Homo sapiens: one gene and its partners. The protein of the gene in region 7 purifies or fractionates together with the protein of the main gene of each other region. This does not show direct contact. Each region holds a gene or a part of one and is shown on either strand. Other genes may lie near its edges.

The links.
Region 1: the proteins of PTPRK (region 7) and FBLN1 purify together in Homo sapiens (affinity purification with mass spectrometry; 3 studies listed by BioGRID and IntAct, with this or other methods). This does not show direct contact.
Region 2: the proteins of PTPRK (region 7) and CERCAM purify together in Homo sapiens (affinity purification with mass spectrometry; 3 studies listed by BioGRID and IntAct, with this or other methods). This does not show direct contact.
Region 3: the proteins of PTPRK (region 7) and LRP1B purify together in Homo sapiens (affinity purification with mass spectrometry; 3 studies listed by BioGRID and IntAct, with this or other methods). This does not show direct contact.
Region 4: the proteins of PTPRK (region 7) and P3H3 purify together in Homo sapiens (affinity purification with mass spectrometry; 3 studies listed by BioGRID and IntAct, with this or other methods). This does not show direct contact.
Region 5: the proteins of PTPRK (region 7) and PCSK5 purify together in Homo sapiens (affinity purification with mass spectrometry; 3 studies listed by BioGRID and IntAct, with this or other methods). This does not show direct contact.
Region 6: the proteins of PTPRK (region 7) and SCARB1 purify together in Homo sapiens (affinity purification with mass spectrometry; 3 studies listed by BioGRID and IntAct, with this or other methods). This does not show direct contact.

The regions. Positions count from the first base shown.
Region 1 is NC_000022.11:45,530,383-45,533,882, forward strand, and holds part of FBLN1 (fibulin-1 isoform D precursor), read left to right. Parts: intron 1-882; coding exon 883-942; intron 943-2,680; coding exon 2,681-2,782; intron 2,783-3,378; coding exon 3,379-3,500. UniProt on the Homo sapiens protein: Incorporated into fibronectin-containing matrix fibers. May play a role in cell adhesion and migration along protein fibers within the extracellular matrix (ECM).
Region 2 is NC_000009.12:128,430,857-128,434,351, forward strand, and holds part of CERCAM (inactive glycosyltransferase 25 family member 3 isoform a precursor), read left to right. Parts: intron 1-314; coding exon 315-447; intron 448-3,245; coding exon 3,246-3,373; intron 3,374-3,495. UniProt on the Homo sapiens protein: Probable cell adhesion protein involved in leukocyte transmigration across the blood-brain barrier. Does not express any beta-galactosyltransferase activity in vitro.
Region 3 is NC_000002.12:142,121,017-142,124,516, reverse strand, and holds part of LRP1B (low-density lipoprotein receptor-related protein 1B precursor), read left to right. Parts: intron 1-3,500. UniProt on the Homo sapiens protein: Potential cell surface proteins that bind and internalize ligands in the process of receptor-mediated endocytosis.
Region 4 is NC_000012.12:6,834,907-6,838,406, reverse strand, and holds part of P3H3 (prolyl 3-hydroxylase 3 precursor), read right to left. Parts: intron 1,423-3,500; coding exon 1,321-1,422; intron 985-1,320; coding exon 834-984; intron 676-833; coding exon 558-675; intron 450-557; coding exon 374-449; intron 1-373. UniProt on the Homo sapiens protein: Part of a complex composed of PLOD1, P3H3 and P3H4 that catalyzes hydroxylation of lysine residues in collagen alpha chains and is required for normal assembly and cross-linkling of collagen fibrils.
Region 5 is NC_000009.12:75,893,673-75,897,172, reverse strand, and holds part of PCSK5 (proprotein convertase subtilisin/kexin type 5 isoform 3 precursor), read right to left. Parts: intron 1-3,500. UniProt on the Homo sapiens protein: Serine endoprotease that processes various proproteins by cleavage at paired basic amino acids, recognizing the RXXX[KR]R consensus motif. Likely functions in the constitutive and regulated secretory pathways.
Region 6 is NC_000012.12:124,853,865-124,857,364, reverse strand, and holds part of SCARB1 (scavenger receptor class B member 1), read left to right. Parts: intron 1-3,500. UniProt on the Homo sapiens protein: Receptor for different ligands such as phospholipids, cholesterol ester, lipoproteins, phosphatidylserine and apoptotic cells. Receptor for HDL, mediating selective uptake of cholesteryl ether and HDL-dependent cholesterol efflux.
Region 7 is NC_000006.12:127,978,600-127,982,099, reverse strand, and holds part of PTPRK (receptor-type tyrosine-protein phosphatase kappa isoform b precursor), read left to right. Parts: intron 1-810; coding exon 811-984; intron 985-3,500. UniProt on the Homo sapiens protein: Regulation of processes involving cell contact and adhesion such as growth control, tumor invasion, and metastasis. Negative regulator of EGFR signaling pathway. Forms complexes with beta-catenin and gamma-catenin/plakoglobin.

The DNA of each region.
Region 1 (3,500 bases), on a different chromosome or scaffold from region 7:
ACTATCCTCGCATGCTCCCTCCTCTGGGAGGGCTTCCTGTCTTCACAGCCGCACCTTCCTCCCACTGCTACCAGTGCCATGGACCCACTGTATGTTTCCTGGGGGCCATGCAGAAGGTCCCCAGACCAGTGCTGGCCTGCGACAAATAAGTACAGAAATGGAGAATAACCCTTTTCAAACACATAATAGCATTTGATAGAATCAATCAGGAGACTCAAGTTTTTACTGCGTGCATTGCTTTAGACTTGGAGGGCGTGTGTTGGTTGTTAGCAAGGCTGTGACTGCATTTGCTGAGATGGTCAAGTAATTTGGACTATGGGAATATCACCCAGCATGAAGTCAATGATTACAGGCCTTTGTGTCTGTGGTCTTTCTGTTATAACTGATCTTTTTTTTTTGAAACGGAGTCTCGCTCTTGTTGCCCAGGCTGGAGTGCAATGGTGTGATCTTGACTCACTGCAACCTCCGACTCCTGAGTTCAAGCGATTATCCTGCCTCAACTTCCTGAGTACCTGAGATTACAGGTGCATGCCGCTACACCTGGCTAATTTTTGTATTTTTAGTAGAGACAGCATTTCACCGTGTTGGCCAGGATGGTCTTGAACTCCTGACCTCAGGTGATCCGCCTGCCTCGGCCTCCCAAAGTGCTGGGATTACAGGTGCCCGCCACCACGCCTGGCCTATAATTGATCAGATATCAATTATACATTTTCAAGTGTAATTCTAGCTTAAAGAGGATAAAGTTAATACTTAGCTGTTTATATAAGATGTTCAAATGGGCATTACTGCCTGATAGTGACAAGAAGAGAGAATGTTGGGAGTTTCTTTTAAGATAAGATGGGTGTTTGGATAAATGTCTGACTTGGTCTTTTTCCCCCTTAGATAAGATCATTGAGGTTGAGGAGGAACAAGAGGACCCATATCTGAATGACCGCTGCCGAGGTGAGACTCGGGCGTCTCCCATCAGTTGGTATTTAAACAAACCCCAAGGGGCCAGCAAGGTGGCTCAGGCCTGTAATCCTAGTACTTTGGGAAGCCAAGGCAGGAGGATTCCTTGAGCCCAGGAGGTTGTGGCTGCAGTGAGCTATGACTGCACCTTTGCACTCTAGCCTGGGCAACAGAGCTGGACCCCGTCTCAAAAACAAAAAAACAAACAAACAAAAAGCAAAACCAAGGAATCTCGGTGCTGATCTCACTGGAAGTTGGAATCCAGGTTTTGCTTTGGTTTACCCTGCAAAGTACCCTTTGGCTGGGAGCCAGCCATGAGCCACTTCCACCCTGAGGAGTCGTGGACTCCCAGCTCCTCCTTCCCTTTCCCCTTCCAGATCTAGGGCTGGCTGGGGAGGGGAAGGGTGGGCTTACCAAGGAGGGGCCCTGGTGAGGCCCTGCTGGGGAGGGTGGCCCAGGCCCAGGGCCAGAGCTGGTGTGGAAAGCCTGCACGTTACCGAGCCCCCAGGCCTTGTGAAGGTGACAGAGGCCTCCCTCAGGCTCTCAGGGGAGAGGAGGGGGCTCAGCGTTCCCTGCCTTTGTGCCCCTGGAGCCCCAGCCACGGTTCTGTCACCATTGGTGATATTCATTTGCCTCACAGGGAGATGTCTGCACATTTAACTAAGGGCCTCGCAGGTTTGTTTTTCATATGATAAAACTGCTTTTCTTTCATGGAACATTCTGGCATGTCTAGACCTGCAGATCTGCCTCACAAGCTCTTTCAGTGGTTCCCCCTGTGGTTAGGGTGTTAATTAGGGGCCAGTTTAATTCTTAAATGATGCAGTCAGTGTACAGTGACAGTTGGTCCAGGGGCGCTGTCCAGGGGCCTGGTGGAGGGAGGAAGGGAGTGACCTAGAGCCCCAGCAAGCCTCAGGGCTATGGGAGGAGCTTTCTGGGGAGGGGAGAGCTGGTCTGCAAGGAGGAGGTGGGATTAGCTGGGAAAATAACCCTGAAACGGTCCTCAGGGAGACCTGAAGCCTTGTAAAGGGCACGGACCCACTGTAGCAGGGTACTGGGAGGCAGTGGGCTGGGGAAGGAGGTGGGGTTACAGGGCCAGAGAGAGGGGCCCTAGAAGCAGGCAGGCTGGCAGCAGTTAGAAGTGTATCTCGTAGAATCTTTCCCTGGTTGAGGCTTATCCTGATGAGATTTGCACTCTGAGCATCACTCTGGCCACCCTGTAGGAAGAACAGGTTGTGGGGTGCTTCTGGGCTATGCAGAAAGACCAGGTAGGAGGCTGTGGCCACAGCCAGGTGGGCAGCTGCAGGAACTGAGGCCATGGTAGTGGGCTTGGAGCAGTGGGACAGCTCGAGAGTTCAGTGAGGAGCAGGTACATGAGGCCTAGTTGGGGCCTGGCCTTCCACGTGGAGCCCACACCCCCATGTCTGTGACCGGCAGTGAGCTCTTCTCTGCTTCGCCCCTTCCAGGTCCACCCCAGCCTACAAAGGGCACCCTGCACACCACCTGATTTTCCAGACGGGGAGGTTGGGACCTGAAGCAGCAGCCCCTGGGGGGTGTCCAGAGCCAGAGCCTGGGGGTCTCCCAGTAGGGCAGCAGGTGGGCTCCAGCCAGGTCAGCCTGCCTTCCTGGGTTCGTCTGCCCAGAGGGCGTTTTCTATGACCCAGCCTGAACGGAGCTAGAAACCAGGCGGTGCCTGGGTGCGTCCATCCCTGGCTCATGCACGCTGTGCTTCCAGGAGGCGGGCCCTGCAAGCAGCAGTGCCGAGACACGGGTGACGAGGTGGTCTGCTCCTGCTTCGTGGGCTACCAGCTGCTGTCTGATGGTGTCTCCTGTGAAGGTAATGTCCCTATCCCAGGTGCCAGCAGGACTGGCCGGTCACTGTGCTTGGGAGCTCTGTGCTGGAGGACTGACCAGGGCCTGCCTTCTACAACCCAGACCCCATTCAGGGGTGGAGAGCAGCCCAGGACGCGCTTTCTCGTGTTCGCTGGAGTTTGCAGCGCAGAGGCCCCTGCCGAGACTTCCCTCCAAGACAATATAAGCACTGGGGTTGGGAAAGAGGATGGAGTTGGGGTCTAACCAGGTTCCGGATCCAGGATCTGCTGAGTGGCCTTGGGCACATCCTTCAGCCTCTCCTGGCCCCCGCGTCTGTGAGATGGGGGAGATGGAGAAGATGCTGCCCCTCCGTGGGGTTCTTGAGGACCACATAACTACAGTCTCAGAAAAAGCAGTAGATATGAACGTTAGCAGGGGAGAGAAATCACTGCTTTCGACTCCGTGCAGTCCACAGCCCGGATGTGCACATGGTGGACCTGAGCTCAGTTTGCGAGGGTGCAGGGAAGCACTTCCACCGTGGCTTTGGCACATTCCTTTCTAGGATGTATTAGGATGGGTCGTTCTTGCTGGTCACCCCCGCACTGCCTCGGTCTCTCCTAGATGTCAATGAATGCATCACGGGCAGCCACAGCTGCCGGCTTGGAGAATCCTGCATCAACACAGTGGGCTCTTTCCGCTGCCAGCGGGACAGCAGCTGCGGGACTGGCTATGAGCTCACAGAG
Region 2 (3,495 bases), on a different chromosome or scaffold from region 7:
AAAAAAAAAAAAACATTAGCTGGGCACCTGTAATCTCAGCTACTTGTGAGGCTGAGGCAGGAAAATCACTTGAACCTGGGAGGTAGAGGTTTCAGTGAGCTGAGATGGTGCCACTGCACTCCAGCCTGGGCAACAGGGGCTCCAGTTCCCCAGGTCCAGTCCCTTGACAGCTTCAGGTCACACAAAGGAGTTACAAGGCAGAAACCTTCTTCAAACCCGACTCCAGTGTGACTGTCCCCAACATGCACAGGCCTGGCCCCTCTGGAGGGGTCTCTGGCAGGCACCCCTCACCCCGCCACACCTGTGTCCCTCAGGATGCTCAACAGCAGTGCCATCAGGAACCTCGGCGTAGACCTGCTCCCGGGCTACCAGGACCCTTACTCGGGCCGCACTCTGACCAAGGGCGAGGTGGGCTGCTTCCTCAGCCATTACTCCATCTGGGAAGAGGTGAGGGTGCCTGCTTCCTCCATCCACAGCCTTCGGGGAGAACGGGGCCAGTTTGTTCTATTCACTGCTCTGTGAACGAGTGAGTGAATGAAGACATTCATCAAAACCTGGCCAGCAGCTTTCAATCTCCTCTGTGTTCAACACCCCAGTGGGCACCACTAAGCGGTGCTTGTTTTCATTCTGCAGTCTCTCTTGAGCATCTACTATGTGCTAGGAGATATTCTGCTCTGAGAACACAGAGGAGGACAGGAACAATGCATGTCTGCTCCTTCCTGCAATAAAGGGATCCCCCTGGGGCTCAGGGACCAGAGCGGGATTATGGAAATCAAAACCAAGCTTGCAGTGGAGGGGAGAGGTATGGGCCACTTTGAGAGGTGCCTCGTGTGGGAGGGGGTCAGAATGGACCTCACCATTGAGGGGCCGGGAGAAGAGGCTTCTAGGCAGAAGAGAACAGTGGGTGCCAAGGCCCTGAGGCAGGAAGGTGTTTAGGAGCAGAAAGAAGGAAGCCTGGGGCTTAGCATGTGCTCAGTACTTGGCCAAGAAGCCTCGGCCCAGGGGCTGGGAGTGTGAGCGCAGGAAAGAGGTTGCTGGACACGGCAGGAGAGAATGGGAACTGGGCCCTCCAAGGGCAGCCCTTCCAGGAGATGGGACATGGATTCCTTGTTTGTGTTCTCTGCTATAGCCAAATATATGTGCACGTGTATGTGAGCATTATGGGTTTTTGTTTTGTTTTGTTTTCTGAGATGGAGTATTGCTCTGTCACCCAGACTGGAGTGCAGTGGCACAATCTTGGCTCATTGCAACCTCTGCCTCCTGGGTTGAAGCGGTTCTCCTGTCTCAGCCTCCCAAGTATCTGGGATTACAGGCATGTGCCACCACACCTGGCTAATTTTTCTATTTTTAGTAGACAGGGGGTTTCGCCATATTGGTCAGGCTGGTCTCGAACTTCCAACCTCAGGTGATCTGCCCACCTCGGCCTCCCAAAGTGCTGGAATTACAGGCTTGAGTCACCATGCCCAGCCTATGTTGGCTTTTTTACCGTCCCTGAACAAATTGGAGGATGACATGGTTCACTACTTTTTTTTTTTTTTTTTTTTTTGAGACAGGGTATTGCTCTGGCACCCAGGCGGGAGTGCAGTGGCGTGATCTTGGCTCACTGCAGCCTGGACCTCCCGGGCTCAAGCAATTATCCCACCTCAGCACCCCCGAGGAGCTGAAACTACAGGCGCGCACCACCACACCCAGCTAAATTTTGTATTTTTTGTAGAGACAGGGTTTCGCCATGTTGGCCAGGCTGATCTCAAACTCCTGAGCTCAAGTGATTCCACCCACCTCAGCCTCCAAAAGTGCTGGAATTACAGGCATGAGCCACCGCTCCTGGCTTCACTACTTTCTGAGCTGATTTCCTTTTCACAGAAGTTATCAAAAGTAGTTTTCCAAAAGTTATTCTAAAGTAACTTTTCCAAAAGTTATCAAAAGTACTTTTTCTTTTGGATATTCGGGGCTGGGGTCTTCCCACCCCCCACCCAGCCCAGCTTCCTTTAGAAAATAGCAGGAGGCCAGGCCAGGTGCGGTGGCTCACGCCTGTAATCCCAGCTGAGGCAGACAGATCACGAGGTCAGGAGTTCAAGACCAGCCTGGCCAACGTGGTGAAACCCCGTCTCTACTAAAAATACAAAAATTAGCCCGGCGTTGGCCGGGCGCCGTGGCTCACGCCTGTAATCCCAGCACTTTGGGAGGCCGAGGCGGGTGGATCACGAGGTCAGGAGATCGAGACCATCCTGGCTAACACGGTGAAACCCTGTCTCTACTAAAAATACAAAAAAATTAGCCAGGCGTGGTGGCGGCGCCTGTAGTCCCAGCTACTCGGGAGGCTGAGGCAGGAGAATGGCGTGAACCCAGGAGGCGGAGCATGCAGTGAGCCGAGATTGTGCCACTGCACTCCAGCCCGGGCGACAGAGCAAAACTCCGTCTCAAAAAAAAAAAAAAAAAAAAAAATTAGCCCGGTGTGGTGGTGGGCACCTGTAATCCCAGCTACTTGGGAGGCTGAGGCAGGAGAATCACTTGAACCCGGGAGGCAGAGGTTGCAGTGAGCCAAGACCATCTTTTGATGGGAACTGCAAGCCACTTCCCCGCCCCCAGAGAGTTGGGCTTCTGGGCCCAGCCACCATCTGTCATGCTTGCACTCAGGCAGCTGGAGGAGTGGGAGGGGAGATGGCTCCTGGTCTTGGCCATGGCTGCTTTGGCCTCCACCGTTCCTGCTCCTCTTCCATGCAGCCCCCTGACTTGGGGGGCCATTTCACTCCAGTCTGGGCAACAAGAGTGAAACTTCGTCTCAAAAAAAAAGGAAAATTGCAGGAGGCCAAAGTGACAAGCTGGGCCCTGGTGTTCAGCAGATGCGGGTTCATATCCCAGCTCTGCCACTTCCTGGCTGTGTGTCCTTGGACAGGCAGTTTCCCATCCCTGCATGTCCACCTCCTTCCTGCGATTGAGGATCATCATCTCCTGCCTCCTGAGGGCCCCTGCAGATACGCAGTGGCACAGCCCTGGGGCACAGTAGCACTCAGGGAATGTAGCAAGGGCCACGGTTACCATCATGATTCTATCTGGAGATCCTCAAATGCCAGAGCGAGGTTGGGATTTCCGGTCCCAGGCAGTGGGGCCCCCAGCAGGCTTTGGGGCAACTGCATGATGTGGCCAGGCCAACTGAGGCCAGGCAGAGGCTGTGAGCTTCAGCGTGGAGGGAGGGGGGTTGTTTAACTCCGAAGAGCCATCTCCCACCCCATTGTATGCCACAGGTGGTTGCCAGGGGCCTGGCCCGGGTCCTGGTGTTTGAGGATGACGTGCGCTTTGAGAGCAACTTCAGGGGGCGGCTGGAGCGGCTGATGGAGGATGTGGAGGCAGAGAAACTGTCTTGGGACCTGATGTAGGCAGCCTGCACCCTCAGGGACAAGGGGGCAGGGTGGGCCTCCGGAGTCTGCCTTTTCCTGCTTGGGACCCTGGCCGGCCCATCCCCTGAGAGCCTGGCCCTGTAGGAGCGGGTGTGGG
Region 3 (3,500 bases), on a different chromosome or scaffold from region 7:
AATGTGATTTCAAAGATTTTCTCTCAATAAAGAATATATATAGTGGAAATCATTCATAAATTGGACAACAGGATTAAATGCTCTTTTAAATATGACTATAATAATTTTCATATGCAGTCACATTAACTTAGTTTTAGTCTACAATTAGGTACCCAATTATGATTTTTAAAAATGCAATGGCATGAATAAATAAATGAGTATACCCATTTGTTGATCTTATTCCCTATTACTTCAAATTTGTAAGTATCCTTAGTGGAAAAGAGTAATGTTCATTTTGGAAATAATCATGTCTCAACATGATTGGGGTCTACTCAAGGGGGAGGGTGGGAGGAAGAAGAGGAGCAGAAAGGATAACTATTGGGCACTGGGCTTAACACCTGGGTGGTAAGATAATATGATCAACAAACCCTTGTTACACATGTTTACCTATGTAACAAACCTTCACATGTACCCCCAAATCTAAAATTAAAATTAAAAAAAACATGTTTTTCTGTTGTTCAATAACTCTACTCATATTTGTTTAATAATGATGTATTGTCTACATTTGGGATTTCTTCTTAAATATTGCAGAATAGTTGTAAATACGTAACGCTTTTCAAAGGTGTCTTTACCTTTAGAAAAGAAAGAAAATTAATTTTGATTAATACATTTGTACCACAGATCCATTTGTTTAATCTTATTTTTCTCAAATATAAGCTCGTATATAAAAGTTTCTCAGATATAAGCTTGTGTATTTAAAAGTTTCCATTTAAACATGAATAATATTATAACTATATCCTTTACAGAAGTTGAGAAAGTACCTTTTCATATACAATTTCTTCCAACTTTGTTAAGAGAAAAATAACCAAAAAAAAAAAAAAACTTCTTGAAGAAGATAGATCATGTTGCCTTGCTAAGATACCGACATTACATTTCATCTCACAATACATTCTTATTAACAGTCAGACATCTCTTCCTGAGTTGCATACACCTCATTGTCCTGACTGGCTTAGCCTTCAGACCAAAGACAGGTATTGTTGAAACATGACCTCATTTTAGTCAAAAGAATATGTTTCTTCTTTAGGTAAGATCAAGGTACCACCTATCGTCTCTTGTTTTATTCTTGCAATCAATAGGACATCCCTTCCTAACTTTTCCACATTGCATTGACATCCTTCAAGATTTCCAAGACTGCTTAACTTTAGAAATACGAATATATAATTCCTTAAGAATTTTTCTACCGCTGAGTTTTTCTTTAATGACGATTTGTCATCTTAGCCCTTTCTTCTTAAAATGAGAAAAGATAACTAACAATGAGTTTTGGGGAGAAATGAAACTTAGTTATGGTTGCTTTGTGTGTTCCTAGCATATCTTAAGATATTTGTGAGAAAGAAAAGCTGTAGGTGTAATGCTGATAACCGAAATGTGTTTAGAATCATCTGTTTTCTTTTGAAACTAGGATGTGTAAGGAAAGGAAGAAAAACAATGCCAAGAAAGAGAACTTTGATAGTCAGAATTTATTGAAGCTTCTGTCCACTACTGCTCAGATCAAGTAGCTGAGCTAATTAGAACCTTAAACTTTTGCTAAAATAGATATTATAGAGATTTAAAAATGATTCAGTTTTTAGATTATCTAAGACATTTTGTGCATTTCCAAAGCTTTTAATGGTATATTTTTATTGGGACAAAAATGTTAGAATAGCAAGTGTGCTTTATTGAAATATTCCACTTTATCCAACTCTATTAACTTTTAAGGCATTTTTTTCATGACTAAGATCTGGAAGTACAGTGATAATGACACCACCTCGTGAGTGAGATTCTTGCCTCATCAGGTGAAAGCACTACAGATTGTGCCCACTGGGCATCCATATTTTTGAGATTTTCATTAAGCATAATAACTACATCAGATTTGTAGATGGAATTACTAACTCAGAATTCAGGCACTCTTGCTGAGCGCCCTTGTATTGATGTCATTTCTAACACAAAGACTAGCAGTTCAGGAGCACTATATTGATGTCCTGTAATACAACAGCACACTAATCTTATTTGCAAGAAAATTTGATGACTATCCAACATGATCAACATTTAGAATATCTAAATCTAAATGTTGAATTTAGATATACTAAATATATCAGATATTCAGAACTTAAACCTTCTTCTTTGTCCGTTGTTGTATTACACTCAATTCTACAGTTCCTTCTCCTAGCACGTTTTCTTCCTATTTTCACTTGCTAGTGATCTTGTCAAATATTTAGAAATTAATCTTGACAGTGAAAGAACCAACATCTTAGCACATTTTGACTTCCTTTGCTATTCTCATTGCTAGGAGAACATAAAGTAATGAAGGGCATGAGGGTTTTACCTTGTGTGTATTTTCATCTGGGTGTCTATGAAAACACCACCAGAGTTTTACAGAAAATTGCTCCGACCCATTCTGAGAAGATAAACATAGCTATGACCCTAACGTTCTGTGAGTGCACAGAGTGTAATGTCTGTGAAAACACATCGTATCATGTATTGCATTACATAAATACCTATTATTTTATTAATTATATTAATTGCTTAATATGAGTTACTAATAGCAAGAAGCTCTTTACATTTTCAGCATACCTTCGCTTTTCATTCAAATTTTTTTTTTCTTGCTGAATCACATGATCCTTGAAGCAACTCATATAGTTGGTGATCACTCATGTGTTTATTCACTCATTTGACAAAGATGAGCAAATAAGTGGTAATCACTATTTTACGTGGTTGGAATGAAGCAAGTGAACAAGGTAGACAATGTAACTGGGCTGATAGGGCTTTAGTGCAAGAGGAGACAGAAACAGCAAACAAATAAATAAATAACATCCTTGCTAAAAAGAAAGAAAAATAATGTAATGTGACTGAGGACAATGCAATTGGGAGTCGTAGTTATAATCGCAGAAGGCCTTGTTGAGTAAGTGACATATTTGGTAAAACTAAGTGACGAGAGGGGACAAGCTCTGAGTCATCTAGAGGGAGGAATTTTCTATGCAACCCTTGAGAGGAAGTTGTGATTTTGGTATTTTAAAGAAAGCAGGTCACTTTGTCTGAAATAAACTGTGTGTGTTTGGGAGAGAACAGAAGTAGAGAAAGCCATATTTACAGTGAAGTCAGATTAGGTCAGGTAGGGTCATGCAGATCAAATTGAGGCATTTGGGTTTGGTTCTGATTTTGAGCAGCTACTGGCTGTCTAATCAGAGGTGAAAATGATGCAACTTACTTTTTAAAGAGATCATGCTTGGTCTGAAAAGAAGGACAAGAAGGGAAATGATGAATCCAGTTCAGGGATTATCAAATTCATCCTGGAAAAGATGTTGATGGCTTGAATGAGGGAGTAGTAGTGGCAATAACGACAAGCTACAACAGAGATTTGCATTTTTAGTTTAGAAAGATTTTCTATAAGAACGAATGCAGCACCATTCTATGTATTAGGGAGGATAGGCATGAAATAAAGCCGCAAAAGATAATCTTTGGGGGAAAGGGTTAATATTCTAATC
Region 4 (3,500 bases), on a different chromosome or scaffold from region 7:
CAGAATCCGAGCCCCAGTCAAGGCGGCCCTGGTATCTGTGCGCCAGCCACTGTGCTCACCTCGCTGCAAAGAGGAAGGACTATTTCAAGTTCCCCAAATCCCTAGAATAGGGCCATGGAGTCCTGGAGGCACCTGCAAGCTGTGCTTCATTCACCCTTCTTTAGGAGGCGAGACAAATACTGATGGTAGGGTTGATTCGGCCACTTAGAGACCTTGCTACGGAGGAAGCAGCGGGAGGGCTGCGGAGGCGGGGAAGTGAAAGGGTTAAAAGCCCTGGCCATTTCCCTGCATTTGCCTCTGGAGCCTTCTGTTTTGAATCCTGACCCCACAGCTGGGCCCTTTGTCACACCGTCACACCCCCCACTCCACGCACCGTGACAGTGAGGGCGTTGGGCTCCGTGAAGAACAGGTCCCCACCCTGGAAGTCATCGTTGAGGTAGAGGAGTCCGCTGGGGAGGGAAAAAAGCAAGAGGCAGTGAGACCCCAACCCAGGCCCAGGCCGGCAGTGGGATGACCTTTGTCTGCCCACCTGCCTGACCACTAGAGGGGCTGCCCACCTGTAGTCCCGATAGGTGTAGGCTGGGGGCTCCCGCCAGCACTCTCCCGTGTCAGGGTCCAGGACGCAGTTGTCTGCGTGCACTGGGTGACTCAGGTCCATGCGCTGCTCTTGCTCTCCTAGGACACAAAGGGGTCTGGGGGTACCTCTGTGCCCCTGTGCCCATCTGCCACCCTGTGGGCTCAGGCCGTGCACGTCCACCCCGGGGCTCTTGGGGGCAGTGTCCTGGGGGCAGGGCCTGAGGTTGGAGAAGAGCAGTGGGGGGTCCCTGTCGTACCTTCTATGGCGCTGCGGCACACCAGGTGGGTGAAGGACAGATGCAGGGGCCGTTCCGGGGAGAAGTAGGCCTGGGTCAAGGTCCGCACCCGCTCGCTCACCTCCAGAAGCAGCTTAGCACCCTGACTGCCCACTGTCCCAGCCCGGGCCAGCTGCAGGCAGTGAAAGGCAGGGCAGAAAAGGAGGAAGGCAAGGGGAGGGTGGTCTCGGCCCTAGCCCCTGCCCAACTCTGCCGCTCTCCACCCATGGGTTTGGAGTCTGTCAGCATCCAGCTCTGTCCATCAGCCCAAACTGCTCCTTCTCTCTCCATGACAACAACCCCGGCCCCAGCTCTCAGAACATCCCTTTTCTCCACGCTGGGTCCTATCAGGTAGTCTCGGTCCCAAGAAAGCTCCTTCACAAAAGCCCAGGCCCTGGGGCCCGGCTTCCTGCACAGCCTCTCCTCCAGGTCTGGGCATCAGACGGGCCCGGGTGCCTCCTGTGCTCACCTGCGCAGCCTTAAGCACCGTGAGCCCCTCGAAGCGTTCATGGGGGGTGTGAGGGGAGCGGCGACCACGATAGCCAGACCTGGCTCCAGCCCCAGCTGCATCCTAAATAGGAAGGAGTTTACCGTGGAGTCACTCCCCCAGCCCCTCACTGTCTGCAGGGCTGCAAGACCCTCCCTCCGGCCCTCCCGCTCTCCAGAAGAAGCTAGATGCTCCCACAGTTCTGTTGTGGCTCGTCTTCCTGAGCTGCTGCTCTTTCCCAGAGAGTGCCCACCGCCACGGCTGTCCGATTGTCCCTCTCTGGTACGGGCTGGAATCCCGCTTACTAAGGGGACTGTGGAGAGAACTCGGGAGAGCTTCCTACAGCAGTAAGGGGGCCTCTGAGAGGGTAGGGACAGCTGGAAAAGTGGGGCAGAGCTGGGAACTAGGCAGGAAGGGCTTGATCATTAATCCCCGATGAGCCAAGAATAGAGGAGTCCCTCTGGAAACAGGACCCTAAGAGGAAGTTCCACAGTTAGGCCAGACTGGCGGTAGGGAGACAGCATCAGCGGGCTATCCCTCTCTGACCTCTTCCCACCTGACATGCTCTCGGAGAAACTGTGGACTCCGTGGCTCCCCCACTCCTTGATACTGAGTCACAACTACCCAGCCACCTCCGCGACCACTCTCACTACCTGGGGGTCTCCTAATATCTGGATGTCTACACTGGAATTATTCGCTTTTCTGACACCCGTTTTTTGTCTACTTTTTGAATTTGTTTAAGCACCACTATCTAGTTACGCCTGCATACAAATCTCACTTCTGAGAGACACCTAGTCACCCAAGCCGTCTAACCTGGGGTTTTTTTTTTTTTTCATTTTTTGTTTTTGAGACGGGGTCTTGCTCTATCGCCCAGGCTGGAGTGCAGTGGCGCCATCATAGCTCACTGCAATCTCCACCTCCCAGGCTCCAGAGGTCCTCCCACCTCAGCCTCCCAAGTAGGTGGGAACATATAGGCGCATAGGCCCAGCTAATTTTTTGTATTTTTGTAGAGACGGGGTTTTACCACGTTGCTCAGGCTGGCCTGGAACTCCTGGGCTCAAGCCATTCGCCTGCCTCAGCCTCCCAAAGTGCTGGGATTACAGGTGTGAGCCACCTCGCCAGCCAACGGTGGCATTCGTCAATTACTCCCCTTTTCCGGGTCTTTCTCCCACTGCATTCTACAGACTGCCACTAGAGGGCTCTACCACTCCTACAGGTGACTCCAGACCCTGCACCTGATTCCAGGTACTACAGGAATGCAAAAGTCAACCGTCCTAAAATCCTGCAACAGCTGTCTACCATACACAGATAAAGCCCAAACTCCTTGGGAGGCCACAGAAGACACTCACTGTCCCTCGGCCTTCATGTGTGGGCTCTCTCCCTCTTTCCCTATACTGTCTCTTGGTAACATACACCCTGATGATTCTATGTTCTTTTTTAATTAATTAATTAATTAATTAATTATTTAAAAAAATTTATTTTTCGAGGCGGAGTTTTGATCTTGTTGCCCAGGCTGGACTGCAATGGTGCGATCTCGGCTCACTGCGACCTCCGCCTCCTGGGTCCAAGCGATTCTCCTGCCTCAGCCTCCCCAGTAGTTGGGATTACTGGCACCTGCCACAATGCCCACTAATTTTTTTGTATTTTTAGTAAAGACCGGGTTTCACCATGTTGGCCAGGCTGGTCTTGAACTCCTGACCTCAAGTGATCCACCTGCCTTGACCTCCTAAAGTGCTGGGATTACAGGCATGAGCCACCACACCCAGCCAGTGATGATTCTGTGTTCTAAGAGCTTTATCATGTGCTAACTCATTTAATCCTCACAACGACACTATGACAAAAACACTATTATTATCCTCATTTTATAGATGAGCAAATTAGGCTCAGAGATGTTAAAATAAATTGCCCAAGATCACACAGGTAATGACTATGGAGCTGGCCCTGCTCTCACCCCTGTGCTTGACTGCAGTTCCCAGAATGCACCATGCTCTTCTCCCTCTTAGACTGATTCCACCCCCAATCGCCTGACTAACTCATCCTTAAGACTGAGCTCAAATACCACCTCTCCAGCAAGCCTTCTATAACTGCATTTCAGTGCTTCTATTTGACATACTTTTTTTTTTTTTTTTTGAGATGGAGTTTCGCTCTTGTTGCCCACGCTG
Region 5 (3,500 bases), on a different chromosome or scaffold from region 7:
CTCCCTATGCCTTATTTTAGCTAATACACACTCATCTTCACTATTAGGTCACCTGATTTTCACAGCAACTCTATGAGGTGGATGGAGTAGGTATTATGGCTCCCTATCTGAAAAATGAGGAACTGAGGGTCAGGTTGGTTGATAAAAGTAAAGACCCTGGAATTTCACTCAAACCTGACTCTTAGTCTTGTTTTCTTTCCGATCTAATTTTACTCTCAGGATGAACTCAAATTGGAGAGTTTATTGGTATTGATTGTTCCTCCTTGGTACCCTTTGATGTAGAGATGGATAATCTGTTGAAACTAGTGAGAACACTCATGAGTAATTTTACTCTAAACTATGTGCAAACTTTATTCTGGTAAAAATAAAAATTGACATATATATGCTGTGCATATGTACATATATTACACACATACATATCTGTGTATATATCATATATAAGTATATGTGTATATATGTGTGTGTGTGTGTATTCTAGCATGCATTAATGTCTATAAGCATTTATTTTTACCAGCCAGGAAGCTAAAGTCAGCTTTTCTGTCATTGATCACAACCTGAATTAAATGAATAAAAAAGTCCCAATGCAGAGCAATGCCTGGAGATACTTCAGCCTTGGTAAAAACCAGACACTGCTTCACATAACTTGAACCGACAACAAAAATATCCCTCCCTGCCCAGGGGATATTTCTGGGTCAGGACTCCCTCTCTCAGCCAAAGAGTCAGACATTGCTGAAAATTTTCTCACTGTACTACCCTGTTTCTCTGGCTGACCTTTAAGGTTAGGACCTCTGGATGTAAGCCCATGAAAGACAGTGATAAGGCAAAGTCAGCTGCCTTTAGGCTCACAAAAATGCAGTTTTTCACTTCAAATAGACCCCGAAATCCCCAATGACCACATACAAACCATTCCTTATCTATGAGGTTAATGCAGCAGACACGCCATCACCAGACCATGCACTCTGAATTGTTTTTTCCAGCAAAGGTTCCCCTACTATCCCTTCATTTGCCTCATCATAAGAAATATGCATATGAGAGTGGCTAGCAGGGGTCAGGGCTGAGGATCTTGAGCATGAAGAGTTGCCCTGTGCAAAGCCAGATATATCACACAGAGACCAATCTGGGACTACAGCACCAACTAACTCTCCTGTTTATAAAATGCCTAAGAATTTATTAGGCAAGCACAATCCACTCCCATACAACCCATCAGACTAACCACATCCCCTATTTCCAGGACTATCCATAAGCACCCAGAATTCACTGCCCATGTGAATCAACATTTCAAGCGTCCTATAATATCCACAGCTCAAAATTAATCAGCAGGGTGGGAGGTGTTCAGGACATCTCTGAACAAAGTTCTCCCTGCGAATGTATCTCTTCCTACCTACTTGGAAAATGCTTCTTCTAGCTTTACTCATACAAACTACACTCAGAATAAAAAATAAAATGTAAATGCGAATATGATTTAACAAAATTTTTCAGGTTATTTTTCCTCCCTTTTGTCCATCCGCAGTATGCTTATCCTGTAACATTTCATGGCCTATGACTAGGATGAATGAGGGAAGAGGGCCCTGCCATGGGAAATCAATCCTAATTGTTTAGAATCTAACATAAAACTATTTTTAAACTATTAATATTTTAAATTACTCACTGAAAGGGAAAATCATTTTCCCTGCCTACAAAGCTATGATATGGTTCTTACAATTCAATCTTCAAAAATATATTTTCCTGATCTTCACATTTCGCATCTCCATTTTTAAAATGTCTTCCTTTCTCCTTATCTAAAACTTTGGATCTCAATTATTTTGACCTTTCTCCTCAGATTCAGATTAAACAAACCTTTCGCTGCAAGCCTAACTATGTGCTGAGCAATGCATAGTTAACTCACTCTATTATCTAGAGATTTATCATTTTACAGATGAAGGAACAGAGGCTCCATTAAGTTCAGTGACTTTCCTGCTTTCACAGCCTCGAAAGTGGCCTCTCCAGAGTTTCCAAGTCCACATGCTGTCAATGGGGGGGCTCTAGGTAAAATATTTTTCCAGTATGGCTTGCATTTAGTTTTATCCTTCAGAGGTGTTATTCAAATTGTTATGTGGTTTGGGGAAGGGGCTTTGCTACTGGTAATCTCAGGCTGGAATCAAGGATTATAAGCAACTCACAGAAGGATAAATACAGCTATTGCACATTGTAAACAATCTGTTTGTTCACAAGGGATCTTCTCCCTGAATTCAAATAACCAGACATTAATTCTTCTTTGTAGATTTACTCTAAATGGAGGTCCACAATTAACAACATGTCAGGTCTTATTCCTTTATATCATTTCAATTGCCTAACCAGTAGATTGTTAGCTCAAAGGGTCAGAGCACATGATTAGTGAGGGAGGACAAAGGCTTCTCCCTCTATTCCCGTGCAGGTCAATAGGCATGCACACCTCCTACCCTCGGCCAGCTCAGAAGGTGCTGGTTCCACTAGATACTAAGAGGGCTGGTAGTCAGAACTTGTAGGGAAGAAAAGCAGGGCATTCTGCAGCTGACTCCGATACCAACCAAAAGATAATATATGCTAACATGACAACAACTAACAATGATTATGGTTAAGTATTATTATTGCAGGATTTCAAGGCACAACCATTCACAAAATATAAACATTTTGTGAAAACATATGCTAGCTCTATGAACAAAGGCAAGAAAACCTTCATTTATGTTCCCTTCTGGAAATCAAGCACGTCCTTTTTGCTTGTTTGTTTGCTTTCTTCTTGTGTTACTCTGCACATCCCATCTTTTTTTTAACAGAAGAGGCACAGCTATTATTTTCCATAGAAATGCCCTGGCCAGAAATCTTACCTCTCGTGACTTTCAAATGCTAAGATGCTACACAAAACATTACATTGATATTCTGAGCAAATGGTCAAAACTATACCTTTACTGTGGTGAAAATTTACTACCTTACTCACCTAGAATATCATACCGAAGATATAAAAAATACTACCAGGATAGTAAATGACTGCAGAAATAATAACAAGTTTCAGTTCCAATTTGCAACACGTAAGATGAGACCCCAAGCCCAAATGGGTAAAAAACAGAACATTCCAGACGCATCTGCAAATTAGTTACTGCCCTCAGCTGATCCACAGCTGGTTTACTGATGGAAAGAATAACAAAAGGATGTCTAAAGTGTTGAAAGGTCAGAGCAGTAAAGGATGAATAAGAAATACATTTGGCCTGTACAGTGCAATGATATTGCACGTGTGAACTCCATTTACCACCCCAAAGACTTAGCATAGGCTTAAGCTCCTTTGATCTACAGAGGAAATGCTCTCCACTGTAGAATAGCTGATCTTTTTACACTGGTTCAAGGGGTCCTCTGTAACCTCTATAAGCACTAAATTTCCTCATTGGCGCTGTAAAACCACAATAAATCATCCTTGGTGTTATTTGTATGTAAACTTTCTTAGCATTATTATTTTTAATGAGAAGCCATGAATCTTCACTATAAGGCCT
Region 6 (3,500 bases), on a different chromosome or scaffold from region 7:
GTTGATGGGAGATAACAGTCAATGGGCACTCGTTGTGGCCGGATACTGTTCCAAGTGTTTATGTGCATTATTCATTTTAGTATCTAAAATAGGTACTATTGTGTCTTATTTTATTGAGGGAAATGGATGCACAGAGGCGGAAAGTAACTTGCCCCATGTCACATAGCTCCAAGCGGTTGAATCAGGATTTCAAGTCTGGGGGCCGACTCCACAGCTGGTCCCGGTGGCCTCTGCGCACTGCGTCCTCCCGGTTCTCCGTGTGTCTGAGCAGGTCGACTGCATGCTTAAGGCGGGCGGCGGGGGGTGCCCTTCTTATATTCTCTTCCTGGGCTGCCCCTTCCTTTTCTGTGCATCACCAGGGAACAGCAGGGTCCCTTCGAGGCTTTGTCCTAATCATCACCCCGCCAAACTTTGCTGGTGCAGAGTGCACCCTGGCCTCTCCCTTCCGGGGGTAGTCTGAGACCAGGGACATGTTCTCCAATCAAAGGCACCAAGTGAGGCTCCCGGGGAGGCCACCTGTTCCTAGCCCAGGGCTCCCAGTGACCCCGGGGGCTGGACTCCCACCCATCCTGCAGGGGCCGCCCGCTCTGCGCCTTTATCAGCCCCCCTGCGGAACCTGGGGGGGAGGCCCAGTGTCTCCACCTACCGGGCGTTTCCTGTAGGACCCCCTTGTTTGGACATGTGGGGCAAAGCCCTAGAACTGATCACTGGGCACAGGTGGGGAGGGGGCTCCTCGAGGACAGCTTGGATCACAGGTGTGTGCCAATTCTGTTTTGTTTTTCTTCCTCTTTCCTGCCATTGAACTTCCTACTCCTTCTAGCATGTGAGAGACAGCTTCAACTTACTCCCTGGCGACGGCTGAAAAACATGGGCTATTTTTAGTTTGTGTGAGTCTAGTTTATTTGCTCCTGGTAGATTTGCCTCTCCCTGTCTTCGTGAGTGTGTGTGTGTTTGCACACACGTGTGTTGGTGTGTGTACACAAGTGCTGATGGTGAAAACAGTGACACACACACCTGTGTAGGCATGCACACACCTGCCTTGATGTGTGACGACGTGATGATGTGTATGCAGACACCTGTGTTGATGTGTGCCTACATATGTTGACACAGGCACACATGGTGTGTCTGTACATGCAAATGGACACACATGAACACACGTGTTTATGCATGTCCTTGTGTGTTGATGTGTCTGCACATACATGTTGATGTGTCCCGCTGTGGTTGGCCTTTCTGGGGCCAGGCCCAGCACCTGGGGTTTCCAGGAAACATTCCCTGTCCCTTCCCGGAATGGCCGGTACTTGCTGTGCCTCCGCCGGGAGATGCACCCTGATTAACTAGAACGTGGCGAAGCTCAGCCACCTGGAATCGCCTTACCCTGGCCTTTGGTTTCTAGCAAATGGGATGGAAGTGAGTCCCCATGGAGGGCTTGCTCCATGAAGGTGTTTTTCCTGGATGAGTCTTGGCCCCAGTGGCGATTTGCTGCAGGCTTGTTGGCACTGTCATTCGTGGGTCCTGCATGGAGGTTCCTTAGTGTCCAGAGGGTGATTCCATGTCTGTGGTCAGCAAAAGAGAGGCCCCTGGGGCCATAAGCCACACCCCCCAAGGCTGAACCCAGAGAGTTTGTGGTTTAAATCTTGGGCCTGGAGGATTCTGTGGAGGAGAGTTCGGTCCAGGCCTTCTGCTCCAGGAGGCGCTGGCAGCTCCGACACCACAGACACATTAATTGTGCGGAGAATTCAACGCTAGGGCTCAGTCAAAAATCAAAAACGCAAAACAAAAAGAGAATCCCTTTTATTTACCTCGTCTCCCTCCCCCTGTTTGGACATGACCTTGAGCTCTGCTGGCCCACAAGTGGCCAGGCTGGAGCTGTCTTGCAAAGAGAAACAAAAACAACACAAAAAGCTGCGTTCTTGACTTTGAAGCCTTAAAGGGCCCAGGGGCTGGCTCCCTGTGGGTGTTGGGGGCGATTTTCCTCCCAAAGCCTGCGTGAGATATGGAGACACTCCGCCTGCTCAGAAGCTCCCCAGGTCCCGGGTTCCAGGAAGCCTCATGGCCCAAGGCCTGGCCGTCTTAATTTTCTTGTTTTCTTTCCCTCCACTCCACTGTTTCTTCCTGTTCACTGATTGCCTGTGCTGGGGAGGGGGAAGGAACGGGAGGGGCCTGACCTTGTTCACTTCCTGGCATTTTGGGTGAAGTTCCTTACACCTTCTCTGGAAGCTTCTAGAAGGACCCTTGAGGCGCTTTAAATCTCCATTCTCTGGGTTTTCCTCCCACCTTCCTGGCTGCTCTGTCTTCTTGCCTGCTGATGCCTCCTCATCTCCCTGGCCTCCTGCCTCCTGCTGGTGGAGCTCCAGGCATCCTTTCTGTGTGTCCTCATCCCTCATCCCTGGGGTGGGCTCCTCCAGCCTTGCGCCTGAATGGCATCTCTGTCCTGACCACTCCCAAATTGGTATCCCTGGGCCCAGACCTTTCCCCTGAACCCCACCCCCGAGTGTCCAACAGCAGAGTCCGTATCTCAACTCGGGGTCAAAGGCAGCTCACGCTCGCCCCGGCTGGCTCCTCATCACCCTCGGCCACACCTGTGGCTCCCACCAGCTTCCCACTCCATCATAGCCCCCCCATCTTCCAGTTGCCCGGGCCAACATCTTGCACTCAGCCTTGACTCTGTTCTCTCCACTTCCCTCAGAGAACCCGTCAGAAAGTTTTCTAGCTTCATCATCTAAATATACCCAGATTCCAACTACTTCTCACCACGCCCGAGGCGCCATCACCTCTGGTCCAAGGCACCATCACCTCTCCCCCAGATTCCTGCATCCGCCTCCTCACTGGCCTCCCTGTGCTCATCCTTGCTCCCCAGTGGGGTTTCTCAATAAGCAGCCATGGGAGCCCATCAAGATTGCACTTAGCACCTCCTCCCCTCAAAGCCCTGACATGGCCAGACCCGTCCCCTAGGAGTCACAGCCAGGTCCTAACCTGGCCCAGGGCCTGTGCCATCCACCCCTGCCACTTTTCTGGCGACGTCCGCATTCCCTTTTCCCTTGCACAATGGCCTCCTGGCCATTCCTCAGCCCCATGGGCCCAATCGCCTTAGCTCTCCTGACACAAGCCCTCTCATCTCCCGTAGGTCTCTGTTCAGCTCTCACTTGCTCACGGAGACCCTCCCCTGATTCCGTTTGTGCATCATGCAGGTTCCCCCTTGTCCCCCTGTGCTGCCAGCCCTCCTTACCCGCTCTGCTTAGACCTGTCAGCCACTGTAGATACCCTGGAACTTCCCTGGGTATCATGTTGATTGTTTATTGTCTATTTCTCCCCATGAGAATGTCGGACTGTGAGGGCAGGGACCTTTGTGTTATTCGTTGCCGTGACCCAAGCCCCTGGAACGATGCCTAGCACATAATCGCAGGTTCTCAAATATTTATTGAAAGGATGTTTAAAAGACAAGGGTTGTTTCACAGGATGGTTCGTGACCAGTGGCAGGTTGTGGTCCTGTGCAGGGCAAT
Region 7 (3,500 bases):
TTGGGATGCCAAGGCAGGCAGATCTTGAGGTCAGCAGTTCAAGACCAGCCTGGCCAACATGGCAAAACCTCATCTCTACAAAAAATATAAAAAATAGCCGGGTGTGGTGGTGCATGCCTGTAGTCCCAGCTACTCAGGAGGTTGAGATGGGAGGATTGCTTGACCCTGGAAGTTTGCTTAACCCTGGAAGGCTGTGGTGAGCCAAGATATTGCCACTGCACTCCAACCTGGGCAACAGAGTAAGACCCTGTCTCAAAAATAATAATAGTAATAATAATAATAAATGAAGTTTGTAGTACATGTTATTTCAAAATAGCCCTAAATGTTTTCACTGCCCTTAAAACACCCCTGAAGGTGGGTGAAAATAAAATCAAGGGCAGAGACCAAATTCTTTGATTGTTGATCCAGTGCTCTTTCCAACATGCCATAGCTTATCTTCAAATATGGCAAGCCCAGATGTTACTACAAATGATACCGTTTCCCAGTGTGATGAAGGGTCATTATCATAATGGACTGCCCGATTGCATTTTCTTTGGTTAAGGCAATGCATTTTGCAGGTAGCAGTGTTGTTTAGCGTACCTTTTCCTTTTAAGAAGAGGAGCCCTGAACAATGTGTGTCTTGTTTCTTTGTCACTTCTCAGGCTTCATTAGCTTTAACTACAAGGTCTATCAGCCTGTCATAGTAGCAAATGCCATTGCCTCGCACAAATCCTTCACTTTCTACTTGGCCTTCTAAATTCCTGATGGATCTGTGTTATACTGTTAAATGGGTCACACTGTCTTTTAACCTGGGTTCTCTTTTCTTTTTAGACTCTGAATTCAGTCACCCCTCGACTACAAGCTGAAGACTGCAGTATAGCGTGCCTGCCAAGGAACCATGACAAGAACCGTTTCATGGACATGCTGCCACCTGACAGATGTCTGCCTTTTTTAATTACAATTGATGGGGAGAGCAGTAACTACATCAATGCTGCTCTTATGGACGTAAGAGACTGCCCTCTTTGTTAGTGTAGAGTGTTGTGGAAAGCTACATAATGCAACTGAACACTGGCTAGTTTTCTTTTCGAGGAAATTAAAATAACCTAAAAAGGAAAAGTGGAAACTTTTATTGAAACACATTTTTTTGGAAAATGATTTTAGGTTTTCCCTATAGAGATTCTTAAGAACTGTCATTTTTATAGCTTTATTGTAGATTTGGAGCTTGATTGTCAATTATTATATTCATGTAGTAAATATTGCAAGTTATAAATTTCATCTTAATTATTTTCAGAAAAGAAAATCATGCCTTATCTATTTTGAATATAATTAGAAATGAATTTTTTAAATCACAGAATGCCAAATCCTACAAAAATCATGTTAATTTGGGAAATTTTTATTTCTGACATTTAATGTTTCAATAATTTACAATTAATTTGTTGGCCATTAATCAATAAGGACTATTATAAGTAACTAGAGAGGGGATGGATGGTATTATGTTAACACATCCATCATAATGAAAGAACAATCTTGCCCCATTCTAAAATCTTAAATTGCAGGGTGTTATATAGCCCATAGACAGAACAATATGGAAAGAAAGTTTTCTGTTTTAGTTTTTGGTTTTTTTTTTTTTAGACAGAGTCTCACTCTGTCGCCCAGGCTGGAGTGCAGTGGCATGATCTCAGCTCACTGCAACCTCCGCCTCCCAGGTTCAAGCAATTCTCCTGCCTCAGACTCTTGAGTAACTTGGAATACAGGAGCGTGCTCTACCACACCCCGCTTATTTTGTTTGTTTGTTGTTGTTTTTGTTTTTGAGACAGAGTTTCGCTCTTGTTGCCCAGGCTGGAGTGCAATGGCACAATCTCGGCTCACTGCAACCTCTGCTTCCCAGGTTCAAGCGATTCTCCTGCCTTTGCCTCCCAAGTAGCTGGGACTACAGGCATGCACCACCATGCACGGCTAATTTTTTGTATTTAGTAGAGATGGGGTTTCACCATGTTGGTCAGATTGGTATTGAACTCCTGACCTCAGGTGATCCACCTGCCTCGGCCCCCCAAAGTACTGGGATTACAGGCGTAAGCCACCGTGCCGGGCCTTTTTTGTATTTTTAGTAGAGATGAGATTTCACCACATTGGCCAGGCTGGTCTCAAACTCCTGACCTCATGATCCGCCCACCTTGGCCTCCCAAGGAAAGAAAGTTTTAAATTATGACTTTGGCCACTTTACTTTGATTATGTTGGAAAGAAGCAAGAAAGCTATCATGGTTTATAATCTTTTTAAACAGTTTACTGCCTTCATTTCTAGCTTTTGCCCTTTCTCCTATGAAACCATATCAAGGAGAAATTAGAAGCCACGGTTCATTTCTTTCTGACTATAACAGGCTTTCTAAGTTATTGTTCCTGTTAAGCCCACATTCTGTTTCTACGAGTAGTCTTCACCAGTTACTTTACTCTTTTTGGTGCTGCAAAGCGGAATAGTCTAAAGGCAGGCTCTCGTCCTTGCTGTGGTCACTCTTGCCTGTGAAAAGCTCTCATCCTTGCTGTGATCGGAGTCTTGCCTGGCCATTAATCACATCCACTGAAATCACATTAAATCCTAATTATACCTTTTCTTTTTATATTAGGTGTCTGGAAAGGCAAATATACTAAATAGAGAGATGGCATACAATACTTTTTCATTTCTGCATCTAAATATGGAATAAAAAAAGGATGTGTGAACAAGAAAAGGAGAAAATAATAATATTTAGAAAAGCATTGATGCCTTTGAATTTTTTGCCATTGGCATCTTTGTCAAATTTTTCTCAATGTCCAGATTGTCTCCTTTTCTTTTCTTTTTTCTTTTTCTTTTTGAGACAAGCTCTCACTCTGTAGCACAGGCTGGAGTGTCGTGCATGATCACAGATGACTGCAGCCTCAATCTCCTGGGCTCAAGTGGTCCTCCCACCTCAGCCTACCAAGTAGCTAGAACTAAGGTGTATGCCATCATGCCCAGCTAATTTTTTTTTTATTATTTTTTGTAAAGATGGGGTCTTGCTTTCTTGTCCAAGCTTGTCTTTTTTTCTGTATGAAAGTTGAAGCTTGTAATCCACCTGCTCTTACTGTCTGCTTAATCCCCTGTGATTCAAAAAAAAGACATTTCATAGTTAAAGCTGTTCTGGGGATTTAGTAGTGCAAATGAACCGTTGGAGAAGTAAAGCTGGTTTGATTTACAAGAACAGGGTTTATTGTTCACTTCTTTCTCCCTACCCTTTATCCCCATCATTAGTACCCTTTTGCCAGGTCTATGAGGGATTAGGAGCTAGGGCCAAGAATTCTGTAATTTCAAAGCCTTACATATGTTCCTGCATTTAGAGGGAAAAAGAATAGGAAGTCTTCAGTCTTCTCCTCTCTTATCAGCTCCTCCTCATGCATATCCCCTCCCCTGTGGCTCAAAAAATGAGTAGATAGCCGTCAGTCTGCTTTGACTTACCTTTGCATGGAGCAGACATTTGATTGGAAGAAGAGCTTCCTTTCTTCTAACTTTT